Linked DNA regions of Homo sapiens: region 1 is linked to region 2. The links come from fine-mapping of genetic effects on gene expression. A gene starts in region 2. The other region holds a variant in brackets. All regions are shown on one strand. Distances are from middle to middle.

Region 1 (5,389 bases), 36 kb after region 2:
CGAAGTGCTTGCTCTCTCACTTTGTGGATTTATATATCTTTTGCGGCCCGCTTGGGGGGAGTATTTGCACATACATTTCTATGTTACTGCTGTTCTCCAAACACTCTATTATTATTGTATCTGAGAGGTTTTCAATTGTTTTAGGGGGGAGTTTCCTACACTTACCCTTTGGTAGTGATTTTCCAATTGTCTATGACTAGCTATTTTGATGACTTAATTTAGAATGGTGGTCCCTTTTGTTTATTTCTAAACTAGCTGCTATGATCCCTGCTTCCCTTCTGCCTCTTTACCCCTCCCTTATTTGTCACCCTTCTCCTCACTTCTCTATTAGGCCGGATTCATCTTTGGAATTAGTAAAAATCCTGCCTCTTCCAGGAAGCCTATCCTGACTATCCCTATGGAACTCTGATTACTTCTTAATTTGCCACTTACTGCACTCAGTTTTGTATAGTTATATTTTATTGTTTTATATTGTTCTCAATGATGGATTAAAATTATTGTTGTTTTGTAGTCACTTCAAGTTATATGTGCATATTATTTTCCCAGCCCAGTGTCAGAGTACTAGCAGATATAAGCAGATATAAACTACGCTTTCCCTCCCCCGCTGACTTTATCCCCACAGCTCATGGCTGTCTCCACGAAGTAAGTGATTCTGTCTGAGTAGGTATTTTTTTTTTTTTTATTTAACCTAGGATCAGACCTAAGGGAGTTTTGTTGTTGTCGTTGTTGTTTTTGAGACAGAGTTTCGCTCTTGTTGCCCAGCCTGGAGTGCAATGGCGTGATCTCAGCTCACGCACCCTCCACCTCCCGCATTCAAGCGATTCTCCTGCCTCAGCCTCCCGAGTAGCTTGGGATTACAGGCATGTGCCACCACACTTGGCTAATTTTGTATTTTTAGTAGAGACGGAAGTTTCTCCATGTTGGTCAGGCTGGTCTCGAACTCCCGACCTCTGGTGATCTGCCCACCTCCGCCTCCCAAAGTGCTGGGATTACAGGCATGAGCCACCGCGCCTGGCCCTGAGTAGGTATTTTTTACTGGGTCCAAAACTGAAGCCACTGTCTGACTTTTGGGATTATCTGTATCTCTCCTTTCTTCCTTTTTACCTCCAATCTCTGAGGATTAAAGATTTTTTTTGTCTGCATTAGCTGAGATATTAGTTTCATAATGTAGCCAATTCATTTACTATTTTTAATTCAGAATGACAAATAAACTGGATTTTTTTCACCTGTAATTTGATCTGTGATTGTTGAAACACGTAAAACATATTTGAACAAAAACATTCCAACACAGTTTATAAATGTGTTATCCTCTGTGGTAAGGACAAAGTCATGAGACTCGTTTTTGCTCAAGGATATACCACATTTGCATCTTAAATACAACTGTTAATATTCTCTTCTTGTTAATTCAGGCAGGGTAGCTTTTCCTGAGTGACAGAAATGTAGATGATTATGTGAAATAATGAGTTGATTGGTTCATATCTGGGTTGTCATTTTGGCTTTTTGGATTGTCTTATGAAAATTTTCTGAGGGCAGTACTCTTTTTTGTAGAGTTGGGATTATAAAACTGTGAAATGTTCTCTTTTACCTTTGTCTTGCCTCTGAAACATTTTTTGGGTTAAATTCTTTAAAAAAAAAGAAGTCCCATTGACTGTGTATGTGCTATTAACTCTAGCATCGCTTCCATGATCTGGTGTTGTCTAACATTTGATTCGTCCCCTTTTGTACATTAGCATATCCCAGCAGCTCGTGGAAGCATTTGTGAACGAAGAAACCGAGGCTATGAGAGATTAAGTGATTTACTCTAGACCACAGGTAACAATGTCTGATGTAAGTTTGGGTCTTCACTCCAAACCTGTACATTCTACTGGATTAAAGGTTCTTAACCTGCTTTGTGCCAAGTTGCACTTTGGCATTCTGGTGAAGCCTGTGGATCCATTTTACTTTTAAATACAAAAAATATGGCCGGGTGCGGTGGCTCACGCCTGTAATCCCAGAACTTTGGGAGGCCGAGACGGGCAGATCACGAGGTCAGGAGATTGAGACCATCCTGGCTAACACGGTGAAACCCTGTCTCTACTAAAAAACACAAAAAATTAGCCGGGTGTGGTGGCGGGCGCCTGTAGTCCCAGCTACTCGGGAGGCTGAGGCGGGAGAATGGCATGAACCTGGGAGGCTGGAGCTTGCAGTGAGCCGAGATCGCGCCACTGCACTCCAGCCTGGGCGACAGAAGGGAGACTCCGTCTCCCCCCCC[C/A]AAAAAAATACATAGCATTACAAAAGAAACCAATTATATATAATTAAAAAAACCCAAGTTTGTAATATACACTGACTTACTAGCACATTAAATAAAATGACCTGGTGTTGGGTGTATTAACTACTATTATTTCAAAGTAGTGATGAGCATGAATATTTGGAATGTCTGAAACTATTGTAATGTGTTATGAAAATGTGTGATTTCTATTGGTGACAAATCACAGGTACTGTGGCTAATACTACTAGGTTTTAGGGTATCATTCATATTTGAAGGAAATGCATACTTTATTTAGAAGTTAGTGAGAATAAAGATGCATTTTTTTTCCTATCCAAGTTTACAGATCTCTTGAATTCCCAGGTTAAGAACTACTTCATCAGATTATACCGGTCTCTCATGTTTATAAACATTTATGCCACCTGCTGGATCTGCTCTTAAAAAACAGAATAAACAATTACAAAAGCAAAAATATATGCAAACAATGTAAGACCTCACTAAAAAAAGTAAGATTCAGGCTTAAGTATTAGTTCTTGCACTGCTATAAAGAAATACCTGAGACTGATAAAGAGGTTTAATTGGCTCATGAGTCTGCAGTCTGTAGGCTCATGACTCTGCATGGCAGTATCTGCTGGCTTCTGGGGAGGCTTTGGGAAACTTACAATCATGGCAGGAGATGAAAGGGAAGGGGGTACATCACATGGCTGGAGGAGGAGGAGGGGCAGCGAGAGGTGCCACACACTTTTAAACGACTAGATCTCATGAGAACTCACTATAAGAATTGCACCAAGAGGGAAATCAGCTCCCATGATCCAGTCACCTCCCATCAGGCCTCACCTCCAACACTGGCGATTACAATTTGACATGAGATTTGGGCGGGGACACAGATCCAAACTATATCAGCATATACATATGTTGCGAGATCCTGGAGGGTAAAAATTAAAATTTACTTAATTTAAAATGGTTAGAACCTATAAGTTTAAATTATTTGTGTTTCTTAATGTTCTAGTCAGTTCTCTGCCTACCTCTCCCCTAAAGATAAAATGATCATATTGAAGTTTGTTATTTTCTTCATTAAAAAGCCTTTGCCTTCTATATTTCAGCTTCTTCTGGGCAATTTGTTTTAATGAGGGTGACTGTCATAGAGAGTTTCAGTTCAGTTCTCCATTAGTGATGACTGGTAGGTAGAGCAGAGACAGGACCTGAAATAGAATGTTAGAGTGCACTGAAATGGCATGTCTCTCCTGTGCGTCGTGTAAGCCTGAAAAGGTTTGTTTTATTGCTTTTCACTGGGTGAGTCTGAACCTCTTCGTCAGTTGTCAGGCCTGACAGCTTAAGTGTATTGTAGTTGCTTCCATCCTTACCTAAAATCTAGTTCTACTCTTTCTTTTGTTAATTAAATGGGAGGCATTCACTTAAATGCATTTTATTTCCTCTCTTAGGTGGGGAATCATAAGCTGTTTCTTCTAAACTGTTAAGCCCCTCTGTCTGAGTTGCTCCAGAGATACTAAGTAACTCGGATGCTGTTGACAGGAAAAGCTTTAGGTAGAGGGGAAAAAAACGACTGAGCACATTTACCGCTCAGCAGGGTTGCCATGCTCCCCTAACCCCGCATCATGCAGTGAGTATGTGCGTTGCTTTCCCCAGGCCAGCATCCTGGATCAGAGCTGCAGGACTTGGGAGGCAGTGCCTCAGCCCTGCTGTCAGCCTCATCTCCCGCCTGGGGAGGAGAGCTGCAGATTTGTGTGAGCTTCCATGCAGCTTCCTGGATTCCCTCTCCCAAGTCTGCCCTGCAGACCCATCCAGTGGACTGCTCTTCTGCCATATACATTCTCTCCCTTGACTCTTTCCAGCCTTGGGCTTTCTAATCATTACCAACACTTTACAGTCTTTTTGTATTTCACAAAAATAGCTTGCAAAAGCTTTTGGCCTGAATTTTTGTAACAGTCTTTTGATTACAATAGGGCTGGAGAATACTATTAACTTCTGATTATCTGAGGACAGATTATTTTAAATTTGGCTTATAAATTGAATGGTATTTTATTTTCCTTTAGTACTTCTTGTATTATTATTGTTATTATTTTGGGGTAATTATTCTCCCCACCCATTAACTTTTATTTTGCTGCATCCTATCAGGAAACTTACAAAACCTAAAAATGTAAGCATTTATTCAATTATAGGTAATGTTTGAAAGAATACAGGTCTGCCTAGGTTTGTATTTTGTACCATTCCCAACTGGGAACTTAAATGACAATGTTTTGGAGAGCGCATGCTGTTAAAAGCGCTAATGGAGAACATTTTAATTTCTATTAACAAATCAACCAATAAAACAATTATTTAAGTATTTTCTTTAAATGTCTAGTGAGTTTTGTGATTGTTAGTAGAGATCAGGCAAAGGGGTTTCAGCCCTTCAGTTGCTTTATCCACAGTTGGTTTATCACACATGCTGCTACCTGCCATGGTGATTAGACATTTACATAGTTTAAACTTTTTATTCATAGTCATGCAGTGTTTAATTTATGCCCATAATAGATTATTGGTAGAAATCTGGAAACATACGGGACACTGATGCTGAAAAGCAGGTTAATGAGCATCATAAATGTGATGATGCCTCTGAAAATTAGCGTCAGGATGCTTTTCACTAGACTACTAAAATGTATTCATTTGCTAAAATGCTCATATAGCACATTGGGGTGTGTCTCATATTTTGCTACTTAATCTTAGAAAGGTTGCTCTTCATTTATTAGGAATAAAAACTATCCTCCCCCAATTTTATTTGCATTTGCAAATAGTACCCTGAAATCTTTTATCCTGTCATAAATAAAACACAAAAGTTCTAAAATCAAATAAGTTAACTTCCCTAAGTGCAAAATGTGAGAATTCTGAACAGTAGAGCATGAAAGGGAATTTTGTCTATTTTTTTTTTTTTTTTGAGATGGAGTCTCAACCGGTCACCCAGGCTGGAGTGCAGTGGCGCTATCTCGGCTCACTGCTACCTCCGCCTCCCGGGTTCAAGCAATTCTCCTGCCTCAGCCTCCCGAGTAGCTGGGTGGGACTACAGGCATGCACCACCACGCCCAGCTAATTTTTATATTTTTAGTAGACACGGAGTTTCGCCATGATGGCCAGGCTGGTCTCAGACTC
Region 2 (5,389 bases):
CCAGCCTGGCGACAGAGCGAGACTCTGTCTCAGAAAAATAAAAGATACATACAGTAATAGATCAGCACATAATTGGATTCATACAGTAATAGATCAGCACATAATTGAAGCTCAAAAATGCGACTGCATTGTAGATGCCTTTGGCATAAGAGAATGCCATGGTGTGTTGTGGCCTGCTGCTTTTAATGTTGAGAGGGATTAATTGAAGAATAGTACCATCATTAACCTAATTTCTATTGAGAATCATCTGCCTCTGTAAAACTAAGGTCATATGGCTAAACTTATGTGTAACAGTGTGTTTAGCAAAAAAGAAATATGTAGATGAATAACCTAATAACTATGTACTGGTCTCGTAGAGGTGAAATGTTGAACTATTAATAGGAACTTTCCACAATAGATCATCTCAACTTTTCTGATGTAGTTTTAATTCCTCCACTAATTTATGCCATCTTTGGCAATCACTTAACTTTTCTCTGCCTAACCCTATTATGGCCTAACTTATGTAACTGAACTAGTAGTAGAAGGAGACACAAAAGTGGAAAGTAAATTCTCTACATACTTGGTGCAAATAATTTATTCTATGAAGAAATGTATTTTCTCATAGACAGGTTTGAAAACCATAGTACTTAAAATTTTACTTTACAAAAAGAAAAAAATACAGATACTAGTTCATGAGACAAGAGACATGGACCAAACACACGTTTACGTTTTTTATTTTTTTATTTTATGGCTACTACTAAAATGCCACCATTCATGTACTGCATAACAGTGTTTCAGTCAAAGAAGAACCTCATTTCTGGCAGTGGAATCATAAGATTATAATGGAGCTGGAAAATTCCTGTCTCCTAGTATTTACTATACTATGCTTTTTATCTTTAGGTTAAAGTGCATTCTTTCTACCTATATAAAAAAGTTAACTGTAAAACAGCCTCAGGCAGGTCCTTCAGGAGGTGTTACAGAAGGTGCTGTTATCATAGGAGATAGCTCCATACGTGTTATTGCCTCTGAAGACCTTTCAGTGGGACAAGATGTGAAGGTGGAAGACAGTGATATTGATGATCCTGACCCCGTGTAGGTCTAGGCTAATGTGTGTGTGTTTGTCTTAATTTTTAACAAAAATGTTTAAAAAGTAAAAAGTAAATAATTTCAAAAATAGAAAAAGCTTATAGACTAAGTATATAAAGAAAGAAATATTTTTGTACAGCTATATAGTGTGTTTGTGTTTTAAGCTAAGTGTTATTAAAGAGTCAAAAAGTCACAAAAAAAGAAGTTTATAAGTTTAAAAAGTTACAGTAAGCTAAGGTCAATTTATTCTTGAAGAATGAAAATATATGAAAATAAATTTAGTGTTGCCTAAGTGCACAGTGTTGATAAAAGGTACAGTACTGCATAGTTGCGTCCCAGGCCTTCACATTCAACTCCCCACTCACTCACTGACTCACTCAGGGCAACTTCCAGTCCTGTAAGCTCCATTCATGGTAAGTGCCCTATAGAAGCATACCATTTTTTATCTTTGATTTTTTTTTTAATGGAATGCTTCAGAAATTCATGTGTCAACCTTGCTCAGGGGCTGTGCTAATCTCTGTATTGTTCAAATTGTCCTAGATGTGTTGCCAAAGCAATCACTTTTACACTGTTTTTGCTGTAGCTTTTCTATGTTTACATATATTTGTACACACAAATACCACTGTGTTACAATTGCCTACAGTATTTAGTACAGTGACATGCTGTACATCTTTGCAGCCTGGGAGCAATAGGTTACACCAAGTAGCCCAGGTGTGTAGTAGGCTACACCATCTGGGTTTGTGTAAGTACACTCTATGATGTTTGCACAACCACAGATATCACAGGGTCACCTAACGAGGCATTTCTCAGAAGTAGTCTTCATTAAGCTACCCTACGACTGTAATGAAACGCTAAGTTTTGAGCCAGGAATTTGTGTATAGAACACTAGGAATGGCTTCATTAGTATCATGCATCTTTTTCATTAAACTGTGAGTCCCTTTGAGAGAAAGATTGTGTCTCTGAACTTAGTGGCCTAAATTTCTAGAATTATGTCTTCAAAAAGTTGCCCAGTTAGGCGTCTCTGGGGAGTCAAAACCACAACTCCCAGAATGCCGTGCTCCCTTAGCGCGCTCAGGCGCGGGGAGAGAATGTCCCATCACCCACCGCGCCAGATCGAGACCACAGTTCCCACTACACCCAGGGACTCCGCGGAAAGCTATCAAACACCACCTGTTGCCATAGCATCCGGGTCGGGTGAACCAATCCGGGCGCCCTCGCCGAACAGAGGCGGGCAGTTCGCATCGCCGACCAACCTGAGGCGTTTTTGTTGTGGCGCGTGACCGGAGGAGGCGGGAGCTCAGGACCGGCGCCTTCTCCTTGCTTCTGGGGGTCGTGGCCTTGCTCCCGCTGTGCGGGAAAAGAATCCAGGCCCTTCCACGCGCGTGTGGGTGCGGGGGCCCCGAAGTGCTCGTGGTTCCCCGCTAGGTCTCCGCTGGGGCAGGAACCGGAATCATGGGTGGGACCACCAGCACCCGCCGGGTCACCTTCGAGGCGGACGAGAATGAGAACATCACCGTGGTGAAGGGCATCCGGGTGAGTGCCCGTGGACGGGCGGAGGGCCAGTGGTTGGACTCGGACCCCAAGGCCCCATCTTCTCCGGACCCGCTCAGCCTGGGTTTCTCCCGTCCTGGACCCTAGCGTATTAAGGCCAGAAGCCCAGGTGTCTGGGAAGAAGCCTAGAGTTTCAAGACGTGGGACATTCATTCAGAGATAGTTCCTGGTTGTGCCAAGTGCTAGGCACTGCTGGGGCGGGCGGGGAATGCCAGGTTGAATTATACCCTGCAAGGGCTCACAGTCTACTCGTAACTGTACTGCTCCCTTGTTGCAGGACCGTATTTGAAACCCATACCTCGGTGTACTTGTCTGTGAAATGGTTTTCCTGGGTTCAGGACCCAAACCCTGCTTTTCCACTGTGCACACCCTGTCTCCCAGGGTGAATTGGCATTTTAAGGATTGCCTTTGCTTTGTGTCATTTAGTGCTCTCCCTCTGATAACACCCCCTCCTCCCACCCACTCCCCACACCCTGTCATCCTCCCTCCCAGCCCCACAGTCTTTTCTGACCTGCCTGGGGCGGCTTCTGGCTTCTCCCTGCTTCACTTTCACTTGATATCTCCTCTTTCCCAGGCGCCTCCTCTGTGACCTGCTGCGCCGAAGTTTTGGATTAGGCCCAGTTGCTTCAGGACTAGTGTCTGCCAGTCTGATAGGGGCTGAGATGGGTTTGCAGTTTTTCATACCAGTAGAAGTAATGTAGTCATTTCTGACCAACGTTGTAGAGCACTTTTTTTTTAATGCCCTTTGCATGCACCTGATACATAAACTGAAAACCTGGTTTTTCTCTAGGGTGTCAGTATACCAGCACTAACTTCATTAACACACTCTCCGCTGCGCCTGAATTTGGAGCCTCACATTTTTGGACGTATGATGCCTGAACCTAGTAAATAAAGCAATTTTGACTTCAGAAAGTTTTATAATAATTTATATATTTTTTTCTGTTATCAACCAGCGTAAATAAATTACATTTGTAAATTATTTTTAACAGTTGTTACCAGGAAATAAAACTTCTTAAATATTTAAAATGTTTAAAAACTTTTTCTTCTGAAACTGTTACCTTGAGAATAATTTATTAAACTTTTCTTCATAGAAACTCAGACTGTCGAACTCAGTTTTTGGTCTGTGACCAGTATTTCTTTATATCATGCTAATTAATGGTAGTACTACATTTTGTAATAAAATATCTGAGGCTGTATTCTTTGAGTTATTGTGTTTCAGTTAGTACTCTTTGGAGTAAAAAATTACTGTAAACTTTAAGTTTTATGCAGAGATTTTAAGACTCTTGCCATTAGGCTTTCAGTACGCAACTCAGAGTGAAAAATAATTAAAAGACAAAGCAAAATAAGTTTTGAGTGAGAAGACATTGGTTAGAAAAAAATGTATAAATCCATATTCTCGTGCTTTAGTACAGACACAGTGCTAACAGCAAACAAAATCGAAAGAGAATGTGGCCACAGCACAGAGATTCATATCAAGTATTAGATAAGGTTGGATGGAATAACTGTGACAGCAGGGATAGGTATTCTATTAAAATGGAAAAATTGTCTAAAAAACCTTTTTAAGATTTTTGTTTTTTAAAAAGAAATGTCCTTTGGTCATATAACTTGACAGCATTCCTCATTTTTTTCCTTTCTTATATAGTACATTTTACCTGTATTGCTAACAGTTCAAGCATGATCATTTTTACCTCTATGCTTTTCTTCAGAATATACCCTTCACCTGGAATGCCCTTGCGCTGGTCTCCATTGCTTCAAATCCTCCTTTTACATGAATGTTTTGCAATCTCTCTGAGCTTCAGTTTTCCCATCTGCAAAATAATGCAACTGAGTACATCCCTCAGATCTCTAATATTTTCCAGTCCTGAAATCCTGTGAGTCTGGTGGCACTGTAAGTTTCTTGTAGCCATACTTAGCCCATTGCAGTTTCCTCTAGAAGTGACATCCATTGAAGTATTGAGTACACAGAGGTCATTCTGATTTCTTTGAGCTCATGATCAAAAGAGTATCAACTTGAAATTAAACAGACCTCAGTTTAAATCTCAGGTTAGATATTTATTACTTAACCTGATTGCCTGTGTGATTTTTGTCTGGGTCTTTTGTAGATGTTTTTCAGTTGATCTTAGTATTTTTCTTGGCTTGAATTAAGCAGACATCAGTTTAAATCGCAGGTTAGTTATTTATTAGCCTGTGGCCTTTGACAATTGACTTCTTTTATTTCCTTATCCATAAACGGTAATACCATCACTTCCCTTGATTGGTTATTGTAAGAAGATGAGGTAAGGTATGTAAAGCACCTGGCACATTGTAGATTTTCATTAAAAAGGCAGCCATTATTATGATAGGGTTCCTTTCACATGCAAAGTTTTAAGATTCTTTGAAAGTGCTGTGCTGTGTAGTGGAAAGAGCATGTGCCTTGGAACCAAGCAGACCTGGGTTGGATTCTATCTCTGCCTCTCACTAGCGGTGTCGCTCTGGACAAGTCACTTTTCATTGTGTTTCCGTATTTAGTATTTCTGGACAAAGCCTACTTTGAGAATTTGACATAATGTATATCTAGCACAGTGTCTTGTACTTTGACAGTGTTTGCACTTGTGAATAATAGCTGTTATTAGAGCTGTTCAAAAGAATGGATATGTGAACTTAAGTGAACTTCAAATTTTAATAAAAATAAGAGCATGTTGTGCCCCAACAGGTGTACCTAAAAGGGTATGGACTGGGAAATGGGAGTCTTACATTCTGCCCTAATTGAGGGTGTTTTTTTGTCTAGGTCTGT

What was found. PIP is the estimated chance that this variant, and not a neighbour inherited with it, causes the effect.
Region 1: its variant is fine-mapped to the expression of CHCHD3 in whole blood (TOPMed, PIP above 0.99).

Annotation. Positions count from the first base shown.
Region 1 is chr7:133,043,434-133,048,822 of GRCh38, reverse strand. The region is part of intron 2 of CHCHD3 (coiled-coil-helix-coiled-coil-helix domain containing 3); the gene reads left to right. Among named protein-coding and RNA genes, the nearest start is that of MIR3654, 11 kb to the right of the region's middle. RefSeq lists a silencer at 5,148-5,310. The variant C/A (reference allele first, on the strand shown) is at 2,252.
Region 2 is chr7:133,079,066-133,084,454 of GRCh38, reverse strand. CHCHD3 (coiled-coil-helix-coiled-coil-helix domain containing 3) reads left to right here and starts at 2,365. Exons shown (of 8, transcript NM_017812.4): 1 at 2,365-2,598. The coding sequence starts at 2,518. It also overlaps the pseudogene RNU6-92P. RefSeq lists enhancers at 2,083-2,192, 2,403-2,582, 1,998-2,632.